Homo sapiens: one gene and its partners. The gene in region 1 interacts genetically with each later gene. Each region holds a gene or a part of one and is shown in the gene's direction. Other genes may lie near its edges.

What was found.
Region 2: changes in PPP2R1A (region 1) and PAFAH1B1 together harm fitness more than expected from each alone (negative genetic interaction), as found in Homo sapiens cells (one large-scale study listed by BioGRID).
Region 3: changes in PPP2R1A (region 1) and TIMELESS together harm fitness more than expected from each alone (negative genetic interaction), as found in Homo sapiens cells (one large-scale study listed by BioGRID).
Region 4: changes in PPP2R1A (region 1) and CCNK together harm fitness more than expected from each alone (negative genetic interaction), as found in Homo sapiens cells (one large-scale study listed by BioGRID).
Region 5: changes in PPP2R1A (region 1) and COPS5 together harm fitness more than expected from each alone (negative genetic interaction), as found in Homo sapiens cells (one large-scale study listed by BioGRID).
Region 6: changes in PPP2R1A (region 1) and YTHDC1 together harm fitness more than expected from each alone (negative genetic interaction), as found in Homo sapiens cells (one large-scale study listed by BioGRID).
Region 7: changes in PPP2R1A (region 1) and ARIH1 together harm fitness more than expected from each alone (negative genetic interaction), as found in Homo sapiens cells (one large-scale study listed by BioGRID).

The regions. Positions count from the first base shown.
Region 1 is NC_000019.10:52,210,343-52,214,642, forward strand, and holds part of PPP2R1A (serine/threonine-protein phosphatase 2A 65 kDa regulatory subunit A alpha isoform), read left to right. Parts: intron 1-917; coding exon 918-1,150; intron 1,151-2,343; coding exon 2,344-2,491; intron 2,492-2,612; coding exon 2,613-2,768; intron 2,769-4,300. UniProt on the Homo sapiens protein: The PR65 subunit of protein phosphatase 2A serves as a scaffolding molecule to coordinate the assembly of the catalytic subunit and a variable regulatory B subunit.
Region 2 is NC_000017.11:2,666,371-2,670,153, forward strand, and holds part of PAFAH1B1 (platelet-activating factor acetylhydrolase IB subunit beta), read left to right. Parts: intron 1-621; coding exon 622-828; intron 829-3,783. UniProt on the Homo sapiens protein: Regulatory subunit (beta subunit) of the cytosolic type I platelet-activating factor (PAF) acetylhydrolase (PAF-AH (I)), an enzyme that catalyzes the hydrolyze of the acetyl group at the sn-2 position of PAF and its analogs and participates in PAF inactivation.
Region 3 is NC_000012.12:56,439,178-56,443,477, reverse strand, and holds part of TIMELESS (protein timeless homolog), read left to right. Parts: intron 1-4,300. UniProt on the Homo sapiens protein: Plays an important role in the control of DNA replication, maintenance of replication fork stability, maintenance of genome stability throughout normal DNA replication, DNA repair and in the regulation of the circadian clock.
Region 4 is NC_000014.9:99,497,910-99,502,209, forward strand, and holds part of CCNK (cyclin-K), read left to right. Parts: intron 1-2,280; exon of another isoform or gene 2,281-2,856; coding exon 2,857-2,962; exon of another isoform or gene 2,963-3,446; coding exon 3,447-3,504; exon of another isoform or gene 3,505-4,297; coding exon 4,298-4,300. UniProt on the Homo sapiens protein: Regulatory subunit of cyclin-dependent kinases that mediates activation of target kinases.
Region 5 is NC_000008.11:67,048,351-67,052,650, reverse strand, and holds part of COPS5 (COP9 signalosome complex subunit 5), read left to right. Parts: intron 1-1,309; coding exon 1,310-1,421; intron 1,422-4,300. UniProt on the Homo sapiens protein: Probable protease subunit of the COP9 signalosome complex (CSN), a complex involved in various cellular and developmental processes.
Region 6 is NC_000004.12:68,339,697-68,343,996, reverse strand, and holds part of YTHDC1 (YTH domain-containing protein 1), read left to right. Parts: intron 1-4,300. UniProt on the Homo sapiens protein: Regulator of alternative splicing that specifically recognizes and binds N6-methyladenosine (m6A)-containing RNAs.
Region 7 is NC_000015.10:72,578,365-72,582,664, forward strand, and holds part of ARIH1 (E3 ubiquitin-protein ligase ARIH1), read left to right. Parts: intron 1-2,366; coding exon 2,367-2,627; intron 2,628-3,710; coding exon 3,711-3,823; intron 3,824-4,300. UniProt on the Homo sapiens protein: E3 ubiquitin-protein ligase, which catalyzes ubiquitination of target proteins together with ubiquitin-conjugating enzyme E2 UBE2L3.

The DNA.
Region 1 (4,300 bases):
TAGTCCCCCAGAAACATGAGATCCCAATTCAGTCACCAGAGCTGTGTGTAACTGTTCATGGGAAGCTTAGGTCAGGTTTTCGATCCTGACCTGTAGCTATTACTAGCTTGGGCAAGCCAGGCTGTACCTCAGTTTTCTCTTCTTTTTTTTTTTTTTTTTTTTCTTTTTGAGACGGAGTCTCGCTGTGTTGCCCAGGCTGGAGTGCAGTGGTGCGATCTCGGCTTACTGCAGCCTCTGCCTCCCGGGTTCAAGGATTCTTCTGCCTCAGCCTCCCGAGTAGCTGGGATTACAGGTGCGCACCACCACACCCAGCTAATTTTTTTGTATTTTTAGTAGAAACGGGGTTTCACCATATTGGCCAGGCTGGTCTTGAACTCCTGACCTCGTGATCCACCCGCTTCAGCCTCCCATAGTGCTGGGATTACAGGCGTGAGCCACTGCGCCCGGCCCGTTTTCTCTTCTTTAAAATCAGGACTTGCTTTATAGAATTCAGTGAGGAAGAACAAGCACCCCTGGTACAACACGGAGGTCCTGCCTAGTACACACAGTGAGTAGATGTTCTACACAGTGTCAGTGATGATCATTGCACTTTGAGAGGCTAAGAACTTTCTCCTCAGAAAGCAACGTGTGTAATTTTAAGGTTTATGGACCCCAGTGAAACTCCTTCAAGGACCCCTAAATAAGAACCTTTGTGGAAGGCACGCTGACAGAGACCTTCTGCTGGCTGGCATAATATTACGTTTTTCCTTTGAGTCATTCATTGCAACCATTTTTAAAGGCTATTTTAATGAAGGTCGGGATGGGTAATAGGGAAGTTTTCTCTGAGGAGATGAGCCCATGATGGGGTGCAGGATGGGGCTCCAGGGCTGCGGATGGTGGAGAGGGAGCTGTCCAGTGACTTTGTGTTCTCACCACAGCCACCGCTGGAGTCGCTGGCCACAGTGGAGGAGACAGTGGTGCGGGACAAGGCAGTGGAGTCCTTACGGGCCATCTCACACGAGCACTCGCCCTCTGACCTGGAGGCGCACTTTGTGCCGCTAGTGAAGCGGCTGGCGGGCGGCGACTGGTTCACCTCCCGCACCTCGGCCTGCGGCCTCTTCTCCGTCTGCTACCCCCGAGTGTCCAGTGCTGTGAAGGCGGAACTTCGACAGTGAGTCTCTGCCTCCTTGGAAGCTCCAAGCTCCCATCTCAGCTCCAACCTTCTCTAAAGCCTCAGACTCCTTTTGGTCTAGCTGGGGCCCAAATGCCCCTGAACTCTCTCCACTCCCACTCCTGCTTACCACCTGATAGGCCACATCCTCGAGAGTTGGTCTCTGGACACGGCCACGTGTCAGTTTACCCACCTCTGCCCCCTTGCTCACTTAGGAATTGAGATGATGACAGGTCCTCCTTCCCACTGGTTAATGTGAGGATTTAAAAGAATTATCACACATAAAGTGCTTAGAGCAAAATCTGGAACATAAAAACTTTCAGCAACTTACATCTGATGGTATCTCCAGCCTGTCCCAGGTCCAGTGCCTTTGGCAGATAAACCACCTCAGTTTTCAGCCTCCTGCTCGTCTACTTTGCAAACGATTGACCGTCAAGCCCGGGTTTGAGCCTGACTCACTCCAGAACTCTGGTTTATGGCTGTACACTTGCTTAGATACTTACACTGGCCCCCACCGCCTTTGATCGAAGCAATTGCTGCTGAAAAATAAAGCCTTTCTGTGGCTCTAGACCTGCCTCTTAGTTAAGCAGTTTTTTGTTTGTTTGTTTTTTGAGATAGGATCTCGCTCTGTCATCCAGGCTGAAGTGCACTGGTGCAGTCATAGCCCACTGCAGCCTCAACCTCCTGGGCTCAAGCATTCCTCCTGCCTTAGCCTCTCAAATAGCTGGGACCACAGGTGTGCAACACCACGCTGGGCTCATTTTTTATTTTTGGCAGAGATGGGGTCTCACTATGTTGCTCAGGCTGGTCTTGAACTCCTGGGCTCAAGCAATCCTCCTGCCTTGGTCTTCCAAAGTGTTCAGATTACAGGTATGAGCCACTGTGCCTGGCTCGTTGGTTAAGCAATTTTTATGGGAATGATGTAATCGTCAGCACTTAGCATTGACTAGATTTATTATGCGCAATCTGCGAAGTGTCTCACACACACTATTTTCATTTAAACCTCATGCGGACCTGTGGGGTAGGTACTGTTACTATCAGCTCCGTTTCATAGGGCTGGGAAGACAGAGAGGGGGTCATCACTTGCCCAAGGTCATTCAGCTAAAACCTGGACCCACACAACTGCAGAGTCTGTGCTTGCTCCTCTCTGCCATACTGCCTGCTGCCTCAGGATCCCCGTCCCCGACTCCCAGGTACTTCCGGAACCTGTGCTCAGATGACACCCCCATGGTGCGGCGGGCCGCAGCCTCCAAGCTGGGGGAGTTTGCCAAGGTGCTGGAGCTGGACAACGTCAAGAGTGAGATCATCCCCATGTTCTCCAACCTGGCCTCTGACGAGCAGGTGAGTTTTGCTTCCTGGCCCTCTGCTCTCCCGTCCTTCTGGTGGTTCCTGCCCATGAAAGAGAATCCCAGAGCTCAGCAAGGCCTCTGCTGCCCTCCCACTGTTCCTCTCCTCTCCCTAGGACTCGGTGCGGCTGCTGGCGGTGGAGGCGTGCGTGAACATCGCCCAGCTTCTGCCCCAGGAGGATCTGGAGGCCCTGGTGATGCCCACTCTGCGCCAGGCCGCTGAAGACAAGTCCTGGCGCGTCCGCTACATGGTGGCTGACAAGTTCACAGAGGTAGATGAGCGACCGTTGACATTGTCCCACTGGTGGGGACACTGACACTCTCAGAAGGGAAGCATATAGGAGCTGAGGTTTCCATTAGGCCGATGGAACCATTGGGCGTTTGAGCAATAAGATCTCTATGATCATCTAACTGCGTCTCGCTTCGTGTGCCAATCCTGGTTGATTGACATGGCATCTTAAAGTGCTGCCTTGAGAAAGATTCTGAGGCAAAGTTAAGGCTACGTGGAGGAAAGTGCCACAGGAGCAGAGAAGGGTAGCACATGTGGGGTGTTCCTGACATAATCAAGCTGTCCTTTCACAAAGGGGAAGACAGCCCAAAAAGGTGGGGTTTTTTGGTGTTTTTTTTTTTTTTTTTTTTTTTTTTTTTTAAGATGGAGTCTGTCGCCCAGGCTAGAGTCTTGTTACCCAGCTGGAGTGTGGTGGCGCAATCTTGGCTCACTGCAGCCTGTCCCTCCCGGGTGCAGGCATTTCTCCTGCCTCAGCCTCCTGAGGGACTGGGATTACAGATGCCCACCACGACACCCGGCTAGTTTTTGTATTTTTATTAGAGACGGGGTTTCACCATGTTGTTAGCCAGGCTAGTCTCGAACTCCTGACCTCAAGCGATCCGCCTGCCTTCATCTCCCAAAGTGCTGGGATTACAGGTGTTAGCCACCGCGCCCAGCCCCGGAAAGTTTAATTAACTGATCAGAGTGACACTACCAGCCAGGCAGAAAGGGGACAAGACTCCAGGTCTGTGACTCTCAGGACAGTGCTCCTTCCACAGGGATCCAGATTGCCTCATCCCACAAACATGTTTGCTGAGCACCAGCTATTTGCTGGGCCAGTGAATTCGGATCATTCCTGGCCTTCATGGAGCTAGGCAGTCTGAAGGGGAAGACTGACTTAGGGGAAATTTGATTATAAAGTGTCACAGGTGTGGGACAGACAGACAGATGTGGGGCCTTGGAAGCATTGAGGAGGGGAGGTGGTGTTACAGCTGGTTCTAGAAGATGAGTGGGTAAGAGCTAAGATAGGAACTTTGTTCCAGCCAGAGGACAAAGAACCCTGGGAGGTGAGAGCAAGTGCAAGCAGGAACATTCAGGCCTGATCTTGATGGCCCAGCCTGAGAGAAAGCAGGAGAGAGGGCAGGGTGGGATCGGAGAGAGGGCAGGGTGGGATCAGAGAGGCCTTGAGTGCCACTCCACCCTGAGGCGCCCTTTGCCTTTAATTATGCTGGTTCCCACTGGCATTTGCGGGAAGGACTCAGAGCTTCAGAATAGCGTACCATCACCACAGTTAGGGAAGGTTCTTCCCATCCTTGTCTCCTGAGCTGCATAAACTGTGTCACACTGGGTCTTAGAATAAAAATTCCATGAGGGCAGGAATTTTAGGCTGTTAAACCAGTTCTTGGCACATAGTAGACATTCAGTAAATATTTGCAAGATGAATAAAAGGCAGTATTTTCCCAAGATATCATGAGGTCCTTCAAGATTTTTACTTGTTCATTCCCGTCTTCATAATGAACTGTCCTGCTTCCTACC
Region 2 (3,783 bases), on another chromosome or scaffold:
GGAGCCATTGTGATTAATGCTGGGAAAAGAACACTAAAATGTGCTCGTAGACAAGTTGTTTTTATCTCTGAGCTTTTATTTTTATCTGTAAATACAACAAATAATATTCCAGTCCTAAAATGGATACTTCATAGGCAAAGTTAGAATAAGTAAATAACATTGTTATGAGTTCATCATATAAAGCTCTTAGAAAAATGCTTAGCACATAGTAGATGCTCAATAAATATTAGCTTTTATTAATATTATTATTACCATATATAATGTGGTTTGGAAAGAACTTACTAAGAGTAGCAGCCTTAGAGGGACCAAGACAAATTCACTGCCCTTCTCTAATTAGTAGAGGACTCTGTCACCAGATACAAATCGAAATTTTTCTTTTTGTTAAAGAGTTAAGGCAATTGTACTGAATTTTTCTCAATTTTTAGTTTCCTCACATGACTTAGATTTTGATGCTGTACAAAATAAATAATTTTCATTTAAATTTGACAAATGCTTTGGAGATTACTGAAATTTTTTCAAGTATCCTACATACATAGTTGCAAAATAAAGGCAGTTTTTTAAAATGTCACATGCTATTTTTATTGAAATCTATCTGTACGTAACTACATGTTCTTTTTCAAGGTTATGGAATTAGAATCAAAGCTAAATGAAGCAAAAGAAGAATTTACGTCAGGTGGACCTCTTGGTCAGAAACGAGACCCAAAAGAATGGATTCCCCGTCCGCCAGAAAAATATGCATTGAGTGGTCACAGGAGTCCAGTCACTCGAGTCATTTTCCATCCTGTGTTCAGTGTTATGGTCTCTGCTTCAGAGGATGCTACAATTAAGGTAATTTTTTGTTAAAAGCAGACTTAACGGGAGGCTGAAGCAGGAGAATGGCATGAACCCGGGAGGCGGAGTTTGCAGTGAGCCGAGATTGCACCACTGCACTCCAGCCTGGGCGACAGAGCCACACTCTGTCTCAAAAAAAAAAAGCAGACTTAATAGGGTGAAGAAAATTAAAAGATCCTGAAAATGAGGGCCTATGAAGAGGGACAGGAGGTACTCTGAAACGTGTGATTTGGTTCTAAATCTTAAAAGACAGAATTGGAATAAAATATCATTGTGGCTCCTGAGAGGCATGCTGCCAGGTAAGTTTGATGGTGAATTTGAGAAAGTCGGGTGTCACTAACTGAGTTGATGTCAGTACATCACCTTGTGCTTGAACAATTTTTGTTCTTGGAGAATGAAAAGTGTGTGTCTTACCTTTAAACGGAGGTTATGTGTGAAATACTGATTGACAAAACTAGTAATTGATAGGGTGAATCTATACTGCAAAAGAATTCAGTAGAGGATTCATTTAAATTGGGCTTTCCTTGATGTATTTAAAATTGGCTTTCCAGGAGTGTGGGAATATACAAGCTTTTCATTTTATAAATTACGTATTTCATTAAAAAATTTTTTTCACAGTAAAAATATTATTACCTTTTAATGTTGTGCTTTTTTAATTAGGAAAAGAGTTGTTTTTAAGTTGCCTTTGTTCCGGACACAATAAAATGACCGTTGTATAAACCACCTACAGAAAGATAAGATAGTTGCAATATAGGTAGATTTAGGTAGATGCCTCTATCCTAAGGGTTATTTCAAAGTAAGTTACAGATATTAAGTTTCATTTACAAAAGTATAACCAATCGGCCGGGCACGGTGGCTCACGCCTGTAATCCCAGCACTTTGGGAGGCCGAGGCGGGTGGATTGCCTGAGCTCAGGAGTTCAAGACCAGCCTGAGCAACACGGAGAAACCCCATCTCTACTAAAATACAAAAAAATTAGCTGGGCATGGCAGCGTGCGCCTGTAGTCCCAGCTACTTGGAAGGCTGAGGCAGGAAATTCGCTTGAACCCAGGAGACAGGTTGCAGTTAGCCAAGATCGCTCCACTGCACTCCAGCCTGGGCGACAGAGCGAGACTGTCTCAAAAAGGTAGTTACAACTAACCAAATAGTAACGACGGTTTGGCCTTACTACTAACAGCAGAAGAAATAAACACTGAAATTATGGGCCGGGTGTGGTAGCTCATGCCTATAGTCCTAGGACTTTGGGAGGCCAAGGTGGGAGGACTGCTTGAGCTCAGGAGTTAGAGAGCAGCCTGGGCAACATAGCAAGACCTCGTCTCTACTTAAAATTAGCCAGGTATGGTGGTGCATGCCTGTAGTCCTAGCTACTCAGGAGGCTGAGATGGGAGGATCACATGAGCCTGGGAGTTGGAGGCTGCAGTGAGCTATGATTGAGCCAGTGTACTCCAGCCTGGGCGAAGAGTGAGACCCTGTCTTAAAAACAAAAAAATTGGACTGGGCACGGTAGCTCATGCCTGTAATCCCAGCACTTTGGGAGGCCAAGGTGGGTGGATCATGAGGTCAGGAGATCGAGACCATCCTGGCTAACATGGTGAAACCCCGTCTCTACTAAAAAATACAAAAAATTAGCCGGGAGTGATGGCGGGCTCCTGTAGTCCCAGCTACTCGGGAGGCTGAGTCAGGAGAATGGCGTGAACCCGGGAGGCGGAGCTTGCAGTGAGCCAAGATCGCGCCACTGCACTCCAGCCTGGGCGACAAGAGTGAGACACACATACATATATATGTGTGTCAAATTGTCAAGGTATTTTACCTATTAAATAAGAATTCCCAGTGATGATAAGATTTTGATAAAGTAGTCATTCTCATTACATATGATACAGTCTTACGGGATATCAATTTAATAGAGTATATGAAGGCTTTAAAAGTTTATACTTTTTGACCCACTAATTGTTTCTCCCCATTACTGTCTGACCTAGGTATTATAAAATGAGGACAGAATTTTTTTATATTAAAAAATGTTCACTATAATGTTTTCTATAATAGTGATTTAGCCAGCAATTAGAATTTTTTTTTTTTTTTTGAGATGGAGTTTCACTCTTGTTACCCAGGCTGGAGTGCAGTGGTATGATCTTGGCTCACTGCAGCCTCCGCCTCCCAGGTTCAAGCAATTCTGCCTCAGCCTCCCGAGTAGCCGGGAGTACAGGCGCCCACCACTGTGCCTGGCTAATTTTTTGTGTTTTTTAGTAGAGACGGGGTTTCACCATATTAGCCAGGATAGTCTCGAACTGACCTCGTGGTCCGCCCGCCTTGGCCTTCCTAAGTGCTGGGATTACAGGCGTGAGCCACTGCGCCCGGCCATATTTCATTTTTTAACTCAAAATGACATATGCTCTTGTTCATTTGCTATTCGTGAACAGTTAACATCTTCTGAAATCTTTCCTTGGCCCTTTAGATGTCTGAGTTCTGATGGTCTAGTAGGATCGAGTATTCATCCATTGTTCCTCAAATATTCTACATACAAATGCCTGCTATAGCCCTCTGAAGCTCCTTCCCTTCCCCTTCCCTTTCCCCTTTCTTTCCCTTTCCTTTCCATCTCTTTCTCTTTCTTTCCTCTTATTTCTTCCCCTTAAGTTTCCTTATTTACATGTCATTCCTGCTCTGAGACAGGGAGCGGACTATGTCTTGTGACTTTATATACCTTATCACTATTACAGTTGGTTATGTGATAGAAACCTTATAAATGTGGTTCTAGAGATAGATTTTAATAATTGCAACATTAGTTTTCCCTGTAGAAAAAAAGACCAATTTATACATGAGATACAATATTTCTAAAATAGTTATCCTTTGTTACTTGTTCGGTTAGTTACTCAGTAAGGTGCCAGACTGGCCTGCTGAGTGCAAATGTGAAACAAGAAAGGAGTGATGGAGTTGGTGTTAACCAATTTTCTGTTC
Region 3 (4,300 bases), on another chromosome or scaffold:
TGATAAACATCTTAACAGGAAACAGGGTTTGAGAGCAGAAAACCAGTCTGACTAGAATTCACCAGGCTGGAATTTCCCAATCCTAGTAAGCCTGAGGGCACTGCAGGAGACCAGGGCATATTTCATCCCTTATCTCAACCGCATAAGACAGATAATCCCAGAGCAGTCGTCTATAGGCCTACCCCTGGGAATGCATTCCTTCCCCAGGGTTATCAATTATTAATATTCCTTGCTGGGAAAAGAATTCAGTGATATTTCTCCTACTCACATGTCGTTTATAGGCTCCCTGCAAGAAGAAAACTATGGCTCTATTCTGCCTGACCCCCCAGGCAGTCAGACCTTATGGTATCTTTCCTTGTTCCCTGAAAATCGCTGTTGTTCTGTTCTTTCTCAGGGTGCCCTGATTTCATATTGTTCAAACACACGTTTTACAAACAATTTGTACAGTTAATGCAGTGATCACAGGGTCCTGAGATGACATACATTGTCAGTTTATGAAGATGACGGGATTAAGAGATTAAAGACAGGCATAGGAAATTATAAGAGTATTGATTGGGGAAGTGATAAATGTCCATGAAATCTTCATAATTTATGTTCACAGATTGCAGTAAAGACAGGCGTAATAAATTATGAAAGTATTAATTTGGGGAACTAATAAATGTCCATGAAATCTTCACAATTTATGTTCTTCTGCTGTGGCTTCAGCCGGTCTCTCCATTCGGGGTCCCTGACTTCCCGCAACATCATCTATCTTATATCACTATAGAGGGTCGTTTGGTTTTCTCCAGCACATCTGGGCCTAGATTTGAATTGAAGTCTAGGAAGCAGATGGTTGCATTGATCTGAGGTTATGTATGGTCTTTTGCAGGGTGAGTGCACTGAAAGGAAAAGAGATAGAGGCCACACGGGAAAATGGCCAAACTGATGTATATAGTGATACAGTAGTAGGATATGTGTGACCCTGGTTTGATCATTTTGTTTTCTAGCTCAGAAATCTTCAGTGGCTCCCTGGCTTAGGTTCTAAATCTTTGAACTGATGGACAAAGATGAGGTTTTTCCCATAAAGCTGGTTCCAGCTGCTTTTCCATTGCTTTCCTGTTGGACTCATCTATTCATAATGGCTCCCTCTTTGGTTTTGCACTGGCAGTTCTCTGCTTAAATGCCCATCCTATTCCCAGCTGCCTTAATCCTATGCAGCTTTCAAAGGCCCAGTTCTAATCATGCTTCCTCAGACAAAACCTCCTTGACCACTTTAACCTGAAAAGAGTACTAGTTTTTTAGTTTTTTTCAGTATCACGTATTTAGAGCTTGTACTGCCTTATCTTTTACATTGTTTGTTCTATATTTGTGGATTTTATTTCTGCAACTACATTTCTTTTTTTTTTTTTTTTTTTGAGACGGAGTCTCACTCTGTCGCCCAGGCTGGAGTGCAGTGGCACGATCTCAACTCACTGTAACCTCCACCTCCCTGGTTCAAGTGATTCTCCTGCCTCAGCCTCCCGAGGAGCTGGGATTACAGGCACCCGCCACCACACCTGACTAATTTTTTGTTAGTTTTAGTAGAGACGGGGTTTCATCATGTTGGCCAGACTAGTCATGAACTCCTGACTTTGTGATCCACCCGCCTTGGCTTCCCAAAGTGCTGGGATTACAGGCGTGAGCCACCGCGCCTGGCCTCTGCATCTACATTTCTTAAATTTCTTTAGCGCTACCATTGCACCTGCACGCTATCTTTTGCCAGGAAGGTTCTCCCTAAGCATTTAGTAACTGACTATAGAGTCTGACAGATGGAGAGGAAATTAATATTTGGGGCGGGGGAGGGGTTCTGTTTGTTTTGTTTATTTGTCTTTTGAGACAGGGTCTCACTCTGTTACCCAGGCTGGAGTGCAGTGGCACAATTTCAGCTCGTTGCAACTTCAACCTCCTGGGCTCAAGTGATCCTCCTGCCTTAGCCTCCTGGGTAGCTGGGACTAAAGGTGTACATCAGCATGCCCGGCTGATTTTTGTGTTTTATTTTTTGTGGAGACTGGGCTTCGCTATGTTGCCCAGGCTGGTCTCAAACTCCTGGACTCAAGTGATCCTCCCACCTCAACCTCCCAAAGTATTAGTATTACAGGCGTGAGCCACCATGTCCAGCCAGGGATTCTTACTTTGTGCTCAGCACTGGGTAGAGTGCTTAATATCACTGCTTCTCAAACTGTCTTGGTAAAGGACCAGGTAGATTTTTCCCTCAAGCTGTTGCAGATCAGTAGTGTTCTAAAAGCACTTCTGTAAAATAAAATTACTAGAAAAATAACATTTAAAAAGACATAGAGAATACAGGCTTTTTATTATTATCATCATTAGATTCAACAAACATTGGCTGGGTGCAGTGGCTCATGCCCGTAATCCCAGCACTTTGGGAGGCCGAGGTGGGTGGATCACTTGAGGCCAGGAGTTCAGCAGCCTAGGCAACATGGCGAAACCCCATCTCAACTACAAAACACAAAAAAATTAGCCTGGCATGGTGGCACAGGCCTGTAATCCCAGCTACTTGGGAGGCTGAGGCACGATAATAGTTTGAACCCGGGAGGCAGAGGTTACAGTGAGCCAAGATCACGCCACTGCATTCCAGCCTGGGTGACAGAGGGAGACCCTGTCTCAAAACAAAACTGTAAACTGCCTGTCAAATTGCCCTAAGATGTTCTAAGTGCTAATGCTTTCTTTCTGTACTTACCTTGATGCAGACTGCTAATAGTTTGTGGATTGGCAGTGGTCTGAAGACCAAGGTTTGAGTAGCATTGCTTTACATGATCTCATTTACACTTCCCTAATATCTTGTGAGGGTGGGTATTATTATTATTTCCTCAGTATACTGATAAGGAAAGAGATTTAGTTAAGCCACCTGCTCAAGTTCACCAGTTTAGTACCAGACAGAATTGGAATTCAAGTGCTAGATGCCATTTTGTTCATACTACTGGGTCTCAAAGAGGATCCTTGGAGCAGAGTTGGTTTGGGGCAGGTAGAGTGTTTTGTTTCGTCTTCAAAAAGTAAGTTTATTTGGTCGGGCGCAGTGGCTCATGCCTGGTATCCCAGCACTTTGGGAGGCCCAGGTGGGCAGATCATGAGGTCAGGAGTTTGAGACCAGCCTGGCCAATATGGTGAAACCCCATCTCTACTAAAAATACAAAAATTAGCTGGGCATGGTGGCGCGTGCCTGTAGTCCCAGCTACTTGGGAAGCTGAGGCAGAAGAGTTGCTTGAATCCAGGAGGTGGCGGTTGCAGTGAGCTGAGATCGTGCCACTGCACTCCAGCCTGGGCGACAGAGCAAGACTCTGTCTCAAAAAAAAAAAAAAAAAAAAAAAGGTTAATTTGAATTGCAAATACATTTAATATTTTATCTGTTGTTTTCTTTTGGTTCTTGCATTTTAATGCCTCCAAGTATTGATTTCAGATGCATATTGCTTCATCTGAACTGCTTGATACTTAGTTGAGTAGGAAAAGTAACTAACATCCCTTTTAAATGTCCAGTTCCATTGGCTCTGTGGTGTTTGACAAAGTTCTCACCTGGTCTATGATGAAATGTGAAAATAAAGTCAATGTAATGAATTTTTTCATGAAGTCATATTTATTAAATTTGAAGGACAGTATTTTATCCTGAGATTTTTGTCTGTAGTTTTTTTGGTGTTAAAATGGTAGAAACAGAATGCGTATAGTAATTGTGTGGAGTGTTGTTTATAACGGCTGTTTGAGATATAATTCATATACTGTAAAATTCACCCTTTTAAAGTGTACAATTCAGGCTAGGTGTGGTGGTTCACACCTGTAATCTCAGCACTTTGGGAGGCCAAGGCAGGAGGATTGCTTGAGGCCAGTCAGGAGTTTGAGACCAGTGTGGGCAACATAGGGAGGTACCAGCTCTACACAAATTTAAAAATTAGCCAGATGTGGTATTGAATGCCTGTGGTCCCAGCTGCTTGGGAGGCTGAGGTGGGAGGATTGCTTGGGCCAAGGAGTTGAGGCTATAGCGAGTCATGATTGATCTGTACTCCAACCTGGGCTGGTCAACAGAGTGAGACCCTGTCTCAAAAGAAAAAAAAAAAAAAAGAAAACCCCTGTACAATTCTGTGATTTTTAGTATATTCAGAGAGTTGTACAACCATTTCTGCCCACCTCAGCCTCCTAAAGTGCTGGGATTACAGGCGTGAGCCACTGTGCCCATATCAGCCTATTGCATTTGCCTATTCTGGACATTTCATATAAATTCCATCATACAATATATGACCTTTTGTGTTTGGCTTCTTTTTTTTTTTTTTTTTTT
Region 4 (4,300 bases), on another chromosome or scaffold:
GTTTTATAGAAATAATTTCACCATCAGATAATGTTTTCAATGTGCATGGGTATTTGATTTTTACTGAGTAGTGGGGCCCTGTGTCCTAACGTGATAAGTCTGATTGTAGGAACATGCTGTGGTTCAGTCACACCCCCGTCACAGGGGCAGGTGAACCTTGTGGCTGGCAAGCTGTGCTTAAGGATAAGGCATCACACAGATCTGGGACCACAGCAGGGCATGGACTCGTGGCAGCTGCTGGTTTGTGCCATCCCAGGGTGCCTTGGAGAAGCCCCCTTTACTTTTAGCCTTTACCCACTGTACCATGAAGTCAGGAAACCAAGCCCCAGTCCAGGAACAGTGAAAGTAGAAGTTCTGAAGCTCCTGTGCCCCAGAAAATGGGAAAAGAGGGGTCACCATACCAATTAGGTCTGAATGGGGGAGGGGGCTTTGCAACCTGCCCCCTGCCTCTCTATCTCGCGCAGTCTTCCCTGGTCGGAGTCGGGGCCAAAGGAAAACACCTGGAGCTGGGAGCAGTGAAGACATTGGGGAAGATGTTTTCCTCTGCAGACAGGAGGGCAATTCTTTAGTGGAGGCAGTATAAGTATTTAGGAAAAATAAGATCATGAGTCCCATGGAACATTTTTTGCCTTAATTAGCTTTATTTTAATTGTGTGGCTTTTCTCTGTAATATTCGTTTCAGCCTTTGTGTTGGGCACTAGACATGAGGCACGAGGCAGAACAGACATGGTCTCTGCTCTCATGGACTCTGCAGTTGAGTGGCAGGATAAATTTTAATCAAATGAGTATATAACTATTTGATGATGAGTTGTGGTGTACGCTGTAAAAGGTCATTTAAGGTGCTGTGATAGCATTCCACCCAGGGACCCAGGCAAGTCCCCCGGATAAATAGGGGCTGAGGGAAGGCGTTCCTGAGGAATGATGTTTGCTCAAAGACCTATAATGACCCCATTAATTGAATATTTGGAAGACAGAGGGAGGGCAGGCCCTGGGCTATCCTGTAACAGTATGTGGGCTACAGCCTGCAAGCCAATTGGTACACTTGGTAAAAAGAATTGTTTCTAAATTTAGAGGAAGTGTTGAAGCTTCTGGGAAGCAGGTGGTGACAATGACATTCAAAGAAAAAAATTGTTTTGTTTTGTTTTTTGAGATGGAGTCTCACTCTTGTTACTCAGGCTGGAGTGCAGTGGCACAGTCTCAGCTCACTGCAGCCTCTGCCGCCCAGGCTCGAGCGATTCTCCTGCCTCAGCTTCCCAAGTAGGGGACTACAGGCGCCTGCCACCATGATTGGCTAATTTTTATATTTTTGGTAGAGGTGGGGTTTCAGCATGTTGGCCAGGCTGGTCTTGAACTCCTGACCTCAAGTGATCTGCCCGCCTCGGCCTCCCAAAGTGCTGGGATTACAGGCATGAGCCACCATGTCCAGCCCAGTTTTTTTTACACTGTGTGAAAGTTTCTAAGATTTTAAAAAACTTTCATGAGAAAATGCTTGGGAAACTAAGATTGAAAAACCTTAGTCTTGCCATGTAATTTGGAATAATAATTATAGAATCATCTCTGTATCCTATAAAATAATACCATGCTTCTAAATGAAAGCCAGTGACCTGTGGGTCTCTGCACCTGTTGATGAGATTTACAGTCCTCTACAACGCCCTGTCTTTGATGCCAAACAAGGAATTCTCTCAAATTGTCCTCCCCGCACACAGTGTCTTGGTTGTGGTTTATGTTGTCTTTAAGCAGTAGGTACAGTCGGCTGTACAGGGGCTGAGTTCAAGACATTAGTTAGAGAGTATCATCAAAGAGGACATTCCATTAACGATAGCAACAGTAAAATATCCAAGGTTAAACCTTGTGGAAACCTCGTTAGTGGGGTGGAAAGGACTTTAAAACAACTAAAGGACTGAAAAGATATTAATAAATTTTTGGAAGGAAACTTCAATATGGTTAAAAATCTCCATTCTCCCTAATTATTCTATAAATCCTCTGAGTTTCCAATGAGAATATTAATAGCATGTATGTTTTCTGTAATGATACTAAGTAAAATGGTTACTAAAATTTGAGTGAGGGGGACATGCAGAACCCAGAAACTGTTTGAAAAAGAGAAGTAATACTGGAGCTATTGTATCCCACCCAAATCCCTTTGATCCTGGTCCAGGAGTAGACAGGCAGATCAGTGAACAGAAAAGATAGTGTGTGTGTAGGCAGACATACACACGTAGTTTAGGAGGTGATTTAGGTAGCATTTTAAATAAAATTGGAAATGATCATTTATTCAGTAAGTGTTGTTGGGATGATTTATTTCAAATAAATGAAAGATTTAAACACAAAATTGATTTGCCCCCATTTGCACGTAATACACTATATGTGTACATGAGTATATATACACACACATACACACACACTGGTACAATTTATCTCTGAGTTTTCATGAGGCTGGCTATCATAAACTCTTTCTTGCTTAAAATGTTTTCAATGAAAATTCCTAAAAGATTGCATTTTTAAAATTTGAGGTCTTGAAAGAAATTACAATTTAGTCAAATTATCAATAACGTAAAGATCTGTTTTGTAAAGGGAGACTCATGTATGTATTGAAAATAATAATATTTTTAAGGATCTTTTGTTTTCAGTATTTTTTTTTACATTACACCTCTGCTTTGTCTTCCTGTTTGAGATCTTTTCAGAATTTATCAGTGTCTCTGAGCATGTTAAAAGTCTGAGTGGGAGAGAAAGGAAGGAAAGGCAGTTGCTAAAATATAACTTGAAGAGAGAATAAATAGACAGGAAAGCTCACTTTTGTAATGCTGCTTGAGACCTGCAATTGTAATTACTGTCCTAACATTTGTGATTGATTTTTAGGAGGAAGTAATGGTTCTGGAGAGAATCTTACTGCAGACCATCAAGTTTGATTTACAGGTAGAACATCCATACCAGTTCCTACTAAAATATGCAAAGCAACTCAAAGGTAAGAAGAAAGTTTTCAGAAGAATTTTTTCATTCTGAAATCAAGTCTTTATAATTTGATGACACTCAAATTACGCTTCTCAAAAGCGGAAAACAAAGTTTGATGTGTGAAATACCAAGGGCATGGCTTGCTCAGTCAATTCAGCATTGCAGCTGCTAATGCTGTTTCCTTTTATGTATAAACAGGCTCTGTCATCCAGTTGCCAAGTGATGGGAGAGGCAGGAAAATGAGGCAGAATTTTTTAAATGGACTAATAAACTTAGCCTTGGAGCCAGGTTTTCCATACATGGTGGTTCAGCGTAGGTCATGAGGAGGAAGAAGGGGTAGGATGTGGACCCACATCATTCATCCTTGTTTCCCACGCAAAAGCTCTTTGCTGTGTATTTGAGTGGTGCTGAACACGTGGTAGGTTTTTAATAAATACTTGATGCTGCCTGTGAATTTTTCTATTGCTATTAATTTACCTTTTTGTCCCCATTTCTAGGTGATAAAAACAAAATTCAAAAGTTGGTTCAAATGGCATGGACATTTGTAAATGACAGGTATACATGTTCAAATGTTGATTAATTACAGTATTTTAAAATAGGCAGAGACTTTATGGACCATTTCATCTAAACCCCTCATTTTGTGTCAGAAGAAACTGACTTGCCCTGGCTTGAGGAGCCAGTTAATGGCAAAGCTGGGGCTGACGTCCAGGTCATCTGCTTCCCGGCAGAGGGTTTCCTTCTGCCCTGCCGTGTCATGGTGTTGTGAGGTGCTGAAATTTTATCACCAGTCTGAAACATAAGTCCAAAACAATACACTGGAGAATTTTGAAAACTAATTACTTAGAGCCCATTTGGTTTTGCAAAAATATACTTCCTGGTATAGTTTTAGAGCCTTAACACTCTTTTGAGAGGCCAGGGATCTAATGAGGGGCCGTGGTGGGAAACAGAATGCCTGTGAATGGAGTTGCTGCCAGCCCCATCCCACTGCAGTCAGTGAAGCTTCTCTTACATTTGACTTCCTCCATAAGATTTCATTTGAAGAAACAGTTGAGTGGCTAGGATTTCAACAGTTTAAATAACATAAGTCATTTTCATTGGTGTAGCAATTTTTGGATGTGCTAGAATTCTTCTGATTCTTTAAGGAATAGAGAAATTACTAACTATGGTTAAAGTAACTTAGTCGGGTACCTTTAGAAGAGTAAAGACTTGAGTTTATTTATTTATAGTACTTTAATTAAATTTAGGGGAGAATAAGCAAATTAATGGTTAGTTATGGCATCTCCATGCACTGGTTTAATCATAAATATTAGATCATATTATCTAACCTTTTTTTTTCTTGTTGAACTAGTCT
Region 5 (4,300 bases), on another chromosome or scaffold:
AGGTTGGGAGTTCAAGACCAGCCTGACCAACATTGTGAAACCCCATCTCTACCAAAAATACAAAAATTAGCTGGGCATGGTGGAGGGAGCCTGTAGTCCCAGCTACTCGGGAGGCTGAGGCAGGAGAATCGCTTGAACCCGGGAAGCAGAGGTTGTGGTGAGCTGAGATTGTGCCATTGCACTCCAGCCTGGGTGACCAAGCAAGACTCTGTCTCAAAAAAAAAAAAAAAATTCTTAACCTTTTGTGTAACATCCTTCACCACCTAGACCCCAGCATAGCTTTCTAGCTTCCCCTCACATAATTCTTCTCTTGCTAAATTTTCCAGCTAAACCCATTGCCTTATTATCTCTTACATGTCTTTCCTTTTTGTGTGTTGATGCTCTCTGCCTAATGCCCTCCTTGCTCTCCACATATCCATACCATAGACTCAAAAATGTTTACCCTACACCTTGCCTTTTCCCTGAGGCTTCTCAGGCAGTTCTAGCTTGAGCTCCTCTATATGAAGAATACTTATTATCTCTAACCCTTAGTTGGTAGGTGATTCATTTTATATAGCACTGTAGCATCACTTATTGTTATTCAATGTATATCATTATATTTAATTTTGATGTGGGTTTAGACCACATCCCCCATATAAATGTTGAGTTCCTTAAGGTAAAGATGTCTCATGCTTTTTTATATCCACTGATACACAGAAGCATGTGTAAGTTTAAGATGTAAGTTTACATCTTAAAAATATATGTATTTTTCAGACATTTAACTAGATTTTTCCTTACTATGCCCTGATGATAAATTAGGCACCTTTGAAAGTGGGAGCAATTATTTTAGATGCCTTAAGGACCTACCTTAAAATTTGCTTTTCAAAAAGCAGTAGGTCCTAACTGGGGAATTAGGAAGGGAAGAATGGAATCCACATGTCATTTTTATTATTTTAAAGAGGCTAACAAAAATTATAGTTGACCCTAGAGAGGCAGCTTATTAAGTTTATGTGCTGTTGGCTTGAATTTATGAACTCAGTAACAGGAATAAACTTGTCATTCAGAAGTTTTGACTGGTTGTTAATAACATTTGGGGAATTTCTGGGCTCTACAGAAAAAAAGGAATAAAACAAGAAGTTTAGTAGGAGATTTGGATCCACAACCCTTGAAGTGTGAGGAAACCATGGTTAGCTATTGCCTTATTGGAATAAAGACTAAAATGTGAATATTTGAGAATAAAGTGTAACTCACTTAAATCTGGCCATAAGTTTTATGTGACGTAGTTGAATTTTTTTTTTTACTTACTAAATTTTATGCTTTTATTTCATAGATATTATGCCTTAGAAGTCTCATATTTCAAATCCTCTTTGGATCGCAAATTGCTTGAGCTGTTGTGGAATAAATACTGGGTGAATACGTTGAGTTCTTCTAGCTTGCTTACTGTAAGTACTATACTTGTAAAGAATGCATTTGAATTTTATCTAAGCTTCATAGCCGTTTAATATCTGAAACACTGTTTCACAGAAAGGCTATACCTGACTTGGCCAAGACACCAGGGCTAGGGTGGGATTCTGCACCACCACAGCTGGATTAGGATTCTAGGCCAATTCAGGATCTGTGTCATGACCCACAGAGACCAAGTCTAAGTAGCAAACAGAGTGTCCAGATCAGGGTGAGATCTGCCCCTGCCATAAGGAGATTTATGGATTAAAAAAATACACATATTGATTTTTGTGTATCAAGTGTCTCAGCTTGGACTCTGGTTACAAGTAACAGGATACCTAATGAAACGAGCTTAAACAAGAAAGGGAATTGTGTAAGTTGCAAAGTTGAGGAATAGGGCTTAACTCAGGCACAGCTAAGTTTGCATTCAACCAATATTATGAGGTCTTTTTTTTTTTTTTCTTTCTCTTAGCATTGATTTCATCTTAGTTAACGCTAGTTTCAGGCTTCATGTGAAAGCAAGACGGCAGCTTTAGCTTTAGACCTCCAAGTCTCTCAGCTTCATGTTCAAAAAGAAGGTCAAGATACACACACACACACACACACACACACACTCTCACACTCACATATTTCCAGGTCAAGATACACACACACACACACACACACACACTCACACTCACATATTTCCGGGCAAAACTTCATTGTGTCTGACTGGCTTTACTTAATCACATGCCCATGTTTAGGCCTGGTGTGGGCCAACTGAATAAGCTTGATGAGCGGCTTGCGCCACGGCAAGTGCTTTACTGCTGAGCCGCAGCGTAGAAAACTCCTTCAGGAGCTCAAGGACTAAAAATGGGGAGGAGAGGTTCCCAGAGTGAATCAGAAGAGCATTACTTTAAAGCAGTAGATACTAGGAGAAAAAAAAAGAGGCCGGGCGCGGTGGCTTACGCCTGTAATCCCAGCACTTTGGGAGGCCGAGGCGGGCGGATCATGAGGTCAGGAGATCGAGACCATCCTGGCTAACACGGTGAAACCCCGTCTCTACTAAAAATACAAAAAATTAGCCGGGCGAGGTGGTGGGCGCCTGTAGTCCCAGCTGCGCGGGAGGCTGAGGCAGGAGAATGGCATGAGCCCCGGGGGGCAGAGCCTGCAGTGAGCCGAGATCGCGCTACTGCACTCCAGCCTAGGTGAAAGAGTGAGACTCCGTCTCAAAAAAAAAAAAAAAAAGAGAGTATCACTGAATTTTTTCTGATAATATCATAAAAACTTAACATATTTGGTAGGATATTATTTAACAAACTTCTCTATATTTAGAACTTAGGAACAATTTTTTTATTTTTCTAAAAAAGTAGGCCATTTCATATACTGCAGTATATATAGTGGTTAGAACCACAGGATTTAGAATTAAATAAACTGGGTTTGGAGAATATGAGCTACAGCAGCAGGAGTCATAGCAGGACCGGCACTTAGAAGTTTCTTATGCTCTTTGATGGAGTATTGGTTGAAAGGAGTACAGCTGAAACTGTAACCAAAGGAGGCATTACGCTTCCAGAAAAATCTCAAGGTAAAGCATTGCAAGCAACAGTAGTTGTTGGATTGAGCTTTCAAGGAAAAGGTGGATTCAACCAGTTAATGTGAAAGTTAGAGATAAAGAATTATTCTCCCAGAATATGGAGGCACAAAAGTAAAGAACTACTTTGCAACTCTTCAGGTTTATTCAGTTGACCTGGAAGGCCAAGGATTTTTTTTTTTTCTTTTTCTTTTCGAGACAGGGTCTCTGTCTCTGTTGTCCAGGGTATTGTGGTGGCACGATCTCAGCTCACTGCAGCCTCAACTTCCCAGGCTTGAGCGATCCTTCTGCCTCAGCCTCCCAAGTAGCTGGGACTACAAGGGTGAGCCACCACACCTGGCTAATTTTTGTATCTTTTTGTGGAGACAGGGTTTTGCCACGTTGCCCAAGCTGGCGTTGAACTCCTGGGTTTGAGCAATCTGCCCGCCTTGGCCTCCCAAAGTGCCATTACAGGCCGTGAGCCACCATGCCCAGCCAGATTATTTCTTATTTAGAGATGCTGACATTCTTAGAAAGTATGTAGACTGAAGTAAATCACTATTGAAATGCCATCAACATGAAGCTGCTCATTGCACTTAAGTTCTGAAATATTTAATTATGTAAATAATTGCCATGTCTCTTCTATAATAAACAAATGATATCTATACTAAAAAATAAAACTGACTTTGAAAACAACTCTGCCACTTTACTAGTTCTGAATGACTTTCAGAAAGTTATTTAATGTGACTAAGCATTTCTTTGTTGTAAAATGTTGATATGCTACATACATCATTAAGTACTCTGAGAAAATTAAATGGGCTACTTTATATAAAGCAATTAGCAAAGTGTCTGGCATATAATAAAGCCTCAATTAATGATTTTTTTTAATTTGGTGCATTATATTCATGGGAAAAGACCTCACTTAAGCCTATTATTTACTGGAATTTTTTTTTTTTTTTTTTTTGAGATGGAGTCTCACTCTGTCACCCCGGCTGGAGTGCAGTGGTGCAATCTCAGCTCACTGCAACCTCCACCCCTCCAGGTTTAAGCAGTTATCTGCCTCAGCCTCCGGAGTAGCTGGGATTACAGGTGCGTGCCACCACGCCCGGCTAATTTTTTGTATTTTTAGTAGAGATGGGGTTTCACCATCTTGGCCAGGCTGGTCTTGAACTCCTGACCTCGTGATCCACCCGCCTCAGCCTCCCAAAGTGCTGGGATTACAGGCGTGAGCCACCGCGCCCGGCTGGAATTTTTTTTAGGCTAGTCAAGTGAAGCAGTGTATTTACTGTTATTTTAAATACAACTCTGACAAGCTTTCTGTTCTTTTTT
Region 6 (4,300 bases), on another chromosome or scaffold:
ATATTAAATCCTTAGAATTTTTAAAAACAGCATTCAAGAGCTGAGTTTATCCTCTAGACTGCTAGTGTAAAACTTTTAGATAGATTTGAATTTTAGCTCTAAATGTAAATACTGTTTAATGTAGGATTGTTTCATTAAGCTTATTTCTTGAACTGGCACATTATAAAAAAATCCATCTTTTTGTGACATCTTAATTTTGGAACAAAATTTTATAGATTTTAACCTGAGGTCAGGAGTTCAAGACCAGCATGGCCAACATGGCAAAACCACTTCTCTACTAAAAATATAAAAATTTAGCTCGGCGTGGTGGCAGGTGCCTGTAATCCCAGCTACTTGGGAGGCTGAGGCAGGGAGAATTGCTTGAACCTCAGAGGCGGAGGTTGCAGTGAGTTGAGATCATGTCACTGCACTCCAGCCTCGGCAACAGTGAGACTGTCTCAAAAAAAAAAAAAATTTTTTTTTTTTTTTTTTTAAAGATTTTAAGTGATTTTTTAAGGCCGGGCACGGTGGCTCATGCCTATAATCCCAAGACTTTGGGAGGCCAAGGCAGGTGGATCACCTGAGGTCAGGAGTTCGAGAACAGCCTGGACAACATGGTGAAACCCTGTCTCTACTAAAAATAACAAAAATTAGCTGGGCATGGTGTGGCGGGCCTCTGTAATCCTAGCTACTCGGGAGGCTGAGGCAGGAGAATCACTTGAACCTGGGAAGTGGAGGTTGCAGTGATCCCAGATTGCGCCACTGCACTCCAGCCTGGGTGACAGAGAGAGACTCTGTCTCCAAAAAAACAAATTAAAAAAAAAGTGATTTTTAATGTCTATAGTTCTCTATATAGACATCTAAAAAAGGCTTTCAATGTGAAGTGCTTTATGTCATAGAAATTAGGATTTTTGTAGTGCATGAATTGTATGCTTATAGGCCTTTTCTTAACCTGGCATTTCTAATCTTTGTTTACTGTTGTTATTCTTGGGTTGGGATACTACTGTCAAACTATTATGAAGTAATTGAAAGTATACATATCTCTATATAGAATATCAATAATGTTAAATTTCAGGACAAAGGAAATGGTTAAAAACGTTTGTTCAGGTAGGTTAAAAGAAAGTCAACCTAGAACTAGTGGATATTACTTTATATCTAAAAGAGATAATTATTTCTTTTCAAAAAGGATATGCCAGTGATGATTATAGTCTTTAACAGCAGTAGCTTGTGAGAGTATTAAAATGTTTCTTCTTTTATAATTCATTCTACGTTAAAAAAATGAATTAAAATGTATGCAAAGTGTACTTTTTCAAGTCAGTGAAGAATATGGCCAGAAGCAGCAGTTTACATTAGCTTTATAACTTAATACTATAAGCTTTAACATTGACCTATTTAAATGAATTTTTGTTATTAAAAATGCACCTCAAGTATATAATTAAAATATTTACCCTTAAATAAAACTATAGTAATTTTGGAAACATCTGTCATGTATTATGTATGACACTTCTGTCAACAGTGATTGGAATATGTGTCCCCTCTGTTTGAAGCTAGGTAAGCTTTTGTGATGAATAAATACTGTGATGGTGTTGCTGGATTTCTACCTGTTCCCGTCTCTGTTGGGACACGAGAGTCCTAAACTACCATGTAAAAGATCTGCCTACTCGGTGGTTGCCATAGTAATGAGTAATCACACACACAGAAATGTTGGAGAAGCTCCAGCTTTGAATCTTCCCAGCCTAGACATCAACGAGACTTGTCAATGAACAAGCCTTCAGATGATTTCAGCCCCAGCCCCAGCCCCATTTGACTGCAGCCACATGGGAGACCCCGGTTGAGCCCTGGAACCATGAGCCATAATGAAAGGTGTTACCATTTTAAGTCAAGTTTTAGGGTGATCATCTTATACAGCAGTAGATAATCAGAACATGTATGCATATACCATACCTGTTTTGTTGAAGAAGGAATTTTGTTTTGTGTTCTGGACCAGATTTTATATATATCACATAGCCCAGTCATTAGCAAGAGGGTTGGGGCAGGCAGGTTTTATTAAAGTCCAATAGTTATAAGGAAGGAGAGTCTTCTTACAGGTTGAAAAACTCATAGAAGATTCAAATGTCCTGCTTTTCCTTTCCCCAAAACTGACCTTTTTTAAGTGCCTCTTATCAGAGGTGAAGAATCTTGAACTCAGAAAGACTGGGAATTTCCTGATACCTAAATGCAAGCTATAACCTGCATTTCCTTAACCTCCAAGACTTTTCCCCTTGTATATTATATTCCAGTGTATATATAAGGAGTTTCAGTGATGGAGAAAAGTACTTAAAATTTGGTCATTTGTATTATATCAGGGGTTGGCAAAACTCTTTGTAAAGGGCCAAATAGACTTTGTGGGCTGTAAGTGTTCTCTGACATATTCTTTGCTTTTTTTTTTTTCTTGTTAATAAGCGCCTTAAAAACGTAAAAACCATTCTTGCAGGCCATTCTAAATAGGCAATGGGCCATGTTTATCCTGTAGGTTTTAGTTTGCCAGTTTGTGGTAAAACCACACAGTTTATTGATGTTATGGACTATAATACGGATAAAAGTGTGTACATCATTTAAGTGAGGGTGTTATAGTTGATTTTGAATATTTCAGTAGATTTTAAATGTTGTAATGTTAAAGATATAGAGCTTTCTGGTGCACTAATTTGAAATTTATGTTCTAGTATATATGCCCTTTTAATATTTTGCATTTGTGTTCTTTATACTTTGGTTAAAGTTGCTTTTATTGTTCCCCATCTGATTTAACTGTCAATTTCTAAAGCCGGAACTTCATACTAATATCCATTTGTTACTAGACAAGTGTATTTGGTCAACTGGAACATTTGAGCTTCTCTTTCTTTATCTGCAAAGTAATGAATGATTAAACATGCTCTATTTTATATGATTTGTATATATGATATATTTTAAAAGTGATAAAATTTTAAAAGTGACAAAGTATTTTTAAAAAGTAGTAAGCATTGGTTAATATTTGTTGTCTTGAAAAAGGTTGTAGGTGCTTTCTAAAACTACAACCAGTATCTGAATTTGAATTCGTTAAAACTTTAAAACAGTAATACCCCTTTTTATAGGAAAACCAGGCTTTAAGTGTGTTTGAAACTTAAATTTATTTAAATTAACATTCTGCAAAATTATTTCATTCTGTATTAAATTTAGCATGTCTAAAGTATATAATATAAATGTTCAGGGTTCGGGGATGATATTTCTGAATAAGATCTAGTGATTTTATGAAAAGATTTGTATAGCATTATTTGCCTGTTTCATTGTGATAGTCTTGAAATTTTTTCTTTTTGTCTTCTACAAATGTATTTGATTCTGTGAAGACCTGTTGGATCTACTTTTTTACTGATTAGTGAGCTTTGACCCAGTACTTATTAAACATCTGTAAAACATTGATTTACTTCTATCAGACTATTTTTTTTATAATTTAGAGTCCGAAAATGGTGTTTGCCACCATTCAGATCTTGAAGAAATTTTTCTTAGCAAAAACATGAATCTAGATGATGAGAGAAGCTTTTTTGTTTGACATATCTTGATTTTAAATAAGATTTTTTAAAAGTAAACAAAAATAAAAACCCATATAGCCTGTTTTCATTTTAGAAAAATGATAGAAAGTACATATCAGCATTGGTACCACCCAAAATGATCAATTTTGCTATTCCAGACATAGTAATTTTCAGATATCTTTAGATTGTGTCTGTTTCCAAATGTAAAGGAAAATGATATCTTTTCCATTTCCTATGTAACCTTATCGTTTGTATTAACTATTCTCTTCAGTCACAGATTTCTTTCCCACTTTGGGGAAAATTTGAATCCCATTTAACCTGTTTATAGCCCCCAGGTTAATTAATAGACCTTTCTGTAATTCATGTGGGCTTTGTTTTTTTCCTGAAGCCACAAATGTAATTGTTCTGTCTCATCAGTTTTCATGGCTTTATACTTCCTCTTTGGCACACCTTAAATTTGGAAAGATGTTTTTGATATTGGAATAGTTAATGTTTAAACATTTACTATTAGCATTAGTACATTTTAAAATTTAAAATGGTATTTGTGTGTATTTCTAAGGTTTATCTTGTTGGACAAGGTAGAAGTGGGGACAAAACTGAGTTTTATGCTTTCATGATCATTGAATAAAGTCATAGTTCCCTTCTCTGAACAAGTTTTGTGCTTTTACAGTCCACACCAGCAGGCTCTAAATGTTTTTTTTATTATATAGCACATTGATAATTTTTTCATTTAACTTGCAGTTTGACATAATTTCAGATAAGCATAATAGCTACAAGTG
Region 7 (4,300 bases), on another chromosome or scaffold:
GTTCTCTTCGATAGCATTGACAGTCCCTTCCAGAGTACCGTGTGCATCTTTACGTTTGTTTACATTTCTCTCAATGTGAATGGTACCATATACGGTCTGTAAGAGTTTGTGTGCATAAGTTTTGATAAATCTCAACTTTTTATTAATAGATTTATGTATATTTTATCGTAGTAAATCATAAGATAGGCTACATATGTCTTATGCATTCATGACAACTCTTTTTCTTAATTTTGGTTTGTCCGCAAGTGTTTTCAAATTGTTGGCAAACCTCCAAAAAATATTTCAATATATTTATTGAAAAAAATCCACATATAAAGTAGACTTACAGTTTAATCCTGTGTTGTTCAAGGGTCAACTGTATATGTTTTAAAGCAATACTCTGTTGGTATCAACTATCTATTGTTCAAATATCCCCAATTATCTTAAATTTTGCTTTTTTTTGTTTTTTGGTGTTTTGTTTTTTTTTTTCAGAGGTAGAGTCTCGTTCTCTCCCCAAGGCTGGAGTGCAGTGGTGCAACTCGGCAATTCTCCTGCCTCAGCCTCCCAAGTAGATGGGATTACAGGCACATGCCACCACGCCCAGCTAATTTTTTGTATTTTAGTAGATACAGGGTTTCACTGTGTTGCCCAGGCTGGCTCAAACTCCTGAGCTCAGGCAATCCACCCGCCTCAGCCTCCCAAAGTGCTAGGATTACAGGCATGAGCCACCACACCCAGCCTATCTTAAATTTTCTTTTATAGTTGGTTCAAATTGGGATCCACATAGGTCCACAAATTGGATTTAATTGATATCTCTTGAGTCTCCTCTACCTGTTGTTCCTTCTCTTCCCCCCTCCTTGCTTTTTTTTCTTTGTTGAAGAAACTAGATCGTGTTGTCCTGTAGAGTTTCCCACATTATGGATTTTGCTGGTTGCAACTGCATGGTGTCATTTAATAGGTTCTTCTATCCCTGCATTTTCTGCACTGGTGATTAATTCAAGAAACTTGATCAAATTCAGATTCAGTGGTTGGGGGGGGAGCCCAGAATACTTAATTGATTATACTTTCTATTGTATTATATCAGGAGTTACATGGTATGTAGTTGCCACTGTAGTTTTCTACTTAAAAATATCTCTGCTTTTTGCTTGTTTTACATCTTGTGGCATACTGTAGAACAGTGCCATCCAGTAGAACATTTTTGTAATGATGTAAATGTTCTTTATCACCAGTGTCTAATTTGGTAGTCACTAAGCACATGTGACTATTGAGCGATGAGGAACTGAATTTTTAGTTTCTTAAATTGAATTTTAAGTAGTCAGGTGTGGCTTGTGGCTACTGTATTGGAAAGTACAATTAATAGGACATTTTTCAAGAGTATTAAATAACAAAAGTAGCAGTAGATGTCTATTCCTGATTTTAGCCTAGATCACAGTACTGTTTCATCAGTAAATCAGCTTTTTAAATTATTAATATTTTTAATGGACAAATCATAATTATACACATTTATGGAGTACAGTGGAATGTTTTGAAATATGTAAACAATGCAATGATTAAATCAAACTAATTGTTGTATTGCCTTGCCTTAACATTTTTATGGTGAGACATTTGAAATGATACTTATTTTGAAATATATATTATTATTGACTATATTCACCCTGTTGTGCAATAAATCTCAAAACTTACTCATCCAGTCTATCTGAAACTTTGTACTCTTTGGTCACCAACTCCCCATTCCCTCCCTTCCTACCCCTCTATCCCCGCAAGCCTCTGGTAACCGTCATTATACTCTGTATGTCTGTGAGTTCAACTTTTTTAGTTTCTACATATAAGCGAGATCATGTAGTATTTCTTTTCTGTGCCTGGCTTATTTCACTTAGTGTAATGTCCTCCAGGTTCATCCATGTTGTCACAACAGAATTCCTTTTTTGAGGCTGAGTACTCGTGTGTGTGTGTACATACATGACGTTTTCTTTCTGTGTTCATCCATTGATGGACACTTTACATGGATTCCATGTCTTGGCTATTGTGAATAATGCTGTAGTGAATGTGAGAGTACAGAGATACCTTTGACATACTGATTTCAATTCCTTTTCATATATACACAGTAGTGGGATTGCTGGATTCTGTGGTGGTTTTGTTTTCAGTTTTTTAAGGAACCTCCCCATACCATTTTCCATAATGGCTATACTAATTTACATTCCCATCAACAGTGTATCAAGAGTCTCCTTCTTTCTTTATCTTTGCCAAGACTTATCTTTCATCTTTTTGATAAAAACCATTCTAACAGGTGTGAAGTGAGACTTCATTATGGTTTTAATTTGATAATCAGCTTTTATGTACAGTTTATGTGTTATAATTATATCACCCAATTTTTCTTAATGGGACAGCGATCTAGGGCAGCCCTGCAGAGGTACCTGTTCTACTGTAATCGCTATATGAACCACATGCAGAGCCTGCGCTTTGAGCACAAACTATATGCTCAGGTGAAACAGAAAATGGAGGAGATGCAGCAGCACAACATGTCCTGGATTGAGGTGCAGTTCCTGAAGAAGGCAGTTGATGTCCTCTGCCAGTGTCGTGCCACACTCATGTACACTTATGTCTTCGCTTTCTACCTCAAAAAGAATAACCAGTCCATTATCTTTGAGGTAGGAGTAGTTCTGGGTGAGGAAAAAGCCCACCTTGTATCATAGGTCTACCTGATCTTTCATATATAAGATACAGAGTTTTCAGGGTTCTTGTTTGTTCAGAACATGTAGGTAGACGAATGTATTTATTACAAAGATACAAGAAATTTCTATTTCTTGTCCTAAATTATATTCAGATCGATGTGGTTTAGCCAGCTAGTGATTAGGTATGCAGGTTCTGGAGTCAGCCCTAGATTTTAATCTTTACTTCATTATGTTTTAGCTCTGTTGATTTGGAGCAAATTCCTTAACCTCTTATTTGTCCATTTTAAAGTGAGGATAGTACCTTTCTAGGTTGTTATGAGGTTTAAGTGAGACAATTTGTGTTTTATGTGAGACAATTTGTGTTAATTGCTATACGGCACCTGGAACATCATAAGTTCTCAATAAAAGCCTTTATTCAGGCTAAACTAACCCTGCAATATTAGAAGTTAATGTGGTGGTTATCTTTAGTGGAGAAATAATGACTAAAAAGCCAGCTTTTAGCAGTAAAGGTTTTCTCAAGTAAAGATGTTCATTTAAAATTGATGCATAAAACATTGATATCTGTATATGACTAGACAATAAGACTGACTAGCAGATGGGACTTCAGTTGGGTAACAGGTACAAAACTAGCCATAGTGGTAAAGGATGATACAATTTGAATCTTCCATACAGTGTTTTCTTATAAGAAATAAGTATAGCCAGATGTAAGCAATAATAGGTTTCTATTTTTTCTCATTTACCTTTGAGTTTTCAGCAAAGAGCAGCTCTCAGAACGAGAAGATTCCAAAAGACATTTTAAATCCTTTCAAATGGTCTTCAGTATTCTTCCAAAAGTAATGGGTGAAATCTTTCGTTCTTTTAACATTTAAAAAATTGTTCTGGAAAAGAACAAACAAGTTATTAGAGATGAAAGCCCATAGAGCTTTACAGGTGCAGTTAAACCACCTATGAAAGTTACAGAATGAGTGTTGAGAGCAGTCTGTAGTCAACAAAACAGTGAAAATGGTTTATCTTTTAGCTTTATTTTGAAGCCAAAATTTACTTTCATTCTTCTTACAGAATAACCAAGCAGATCTAGAGAATGCCACAGAGGTGCTCTCGGGCTACCTTGAACGAGATATTTCCCAAGATTCTCTGCAGGATATAAAGCAGAAAGTACAAGACAAGTACAGGTAATTTTTTTTTAAGCTGTTGAATAAAACTTTCTGCCAGTGATGATCCTTACTGGTAAAGTTCAGTGATAGTGAAACTGGGTTTAGCATATCCAGCAACTGAGCTTTTGCCATGTTTCTCACAGATTGCTTCTGTCCGTTGGGCACTAAATTGCAGGTAATAGTATTGGTGAAGCATACATAGAGAAGGAATTCAGCCATTTATTCTATTGGCTAATTCCACTTCTGTTCAGTTATTTAGTTGCTACCTTGCAAGGAAGAAAGAATCCAAAAAGGCCAAGTGGCCTTTAGGATGAGAGTGAGAATTGAATGTTGGTCTTAGCCTGAGAATCCTATGTATGGGTCATGGCTATTCACAAATGAGCTATGGAAACTTACTTTTTAGAGTTTTTATTACATATATATATATATATTTTTTTAATCTAAGGAGATACTTGTCCTAGGAGTCGATTTTTCAAGATGTGCCGCCTCTTAAGC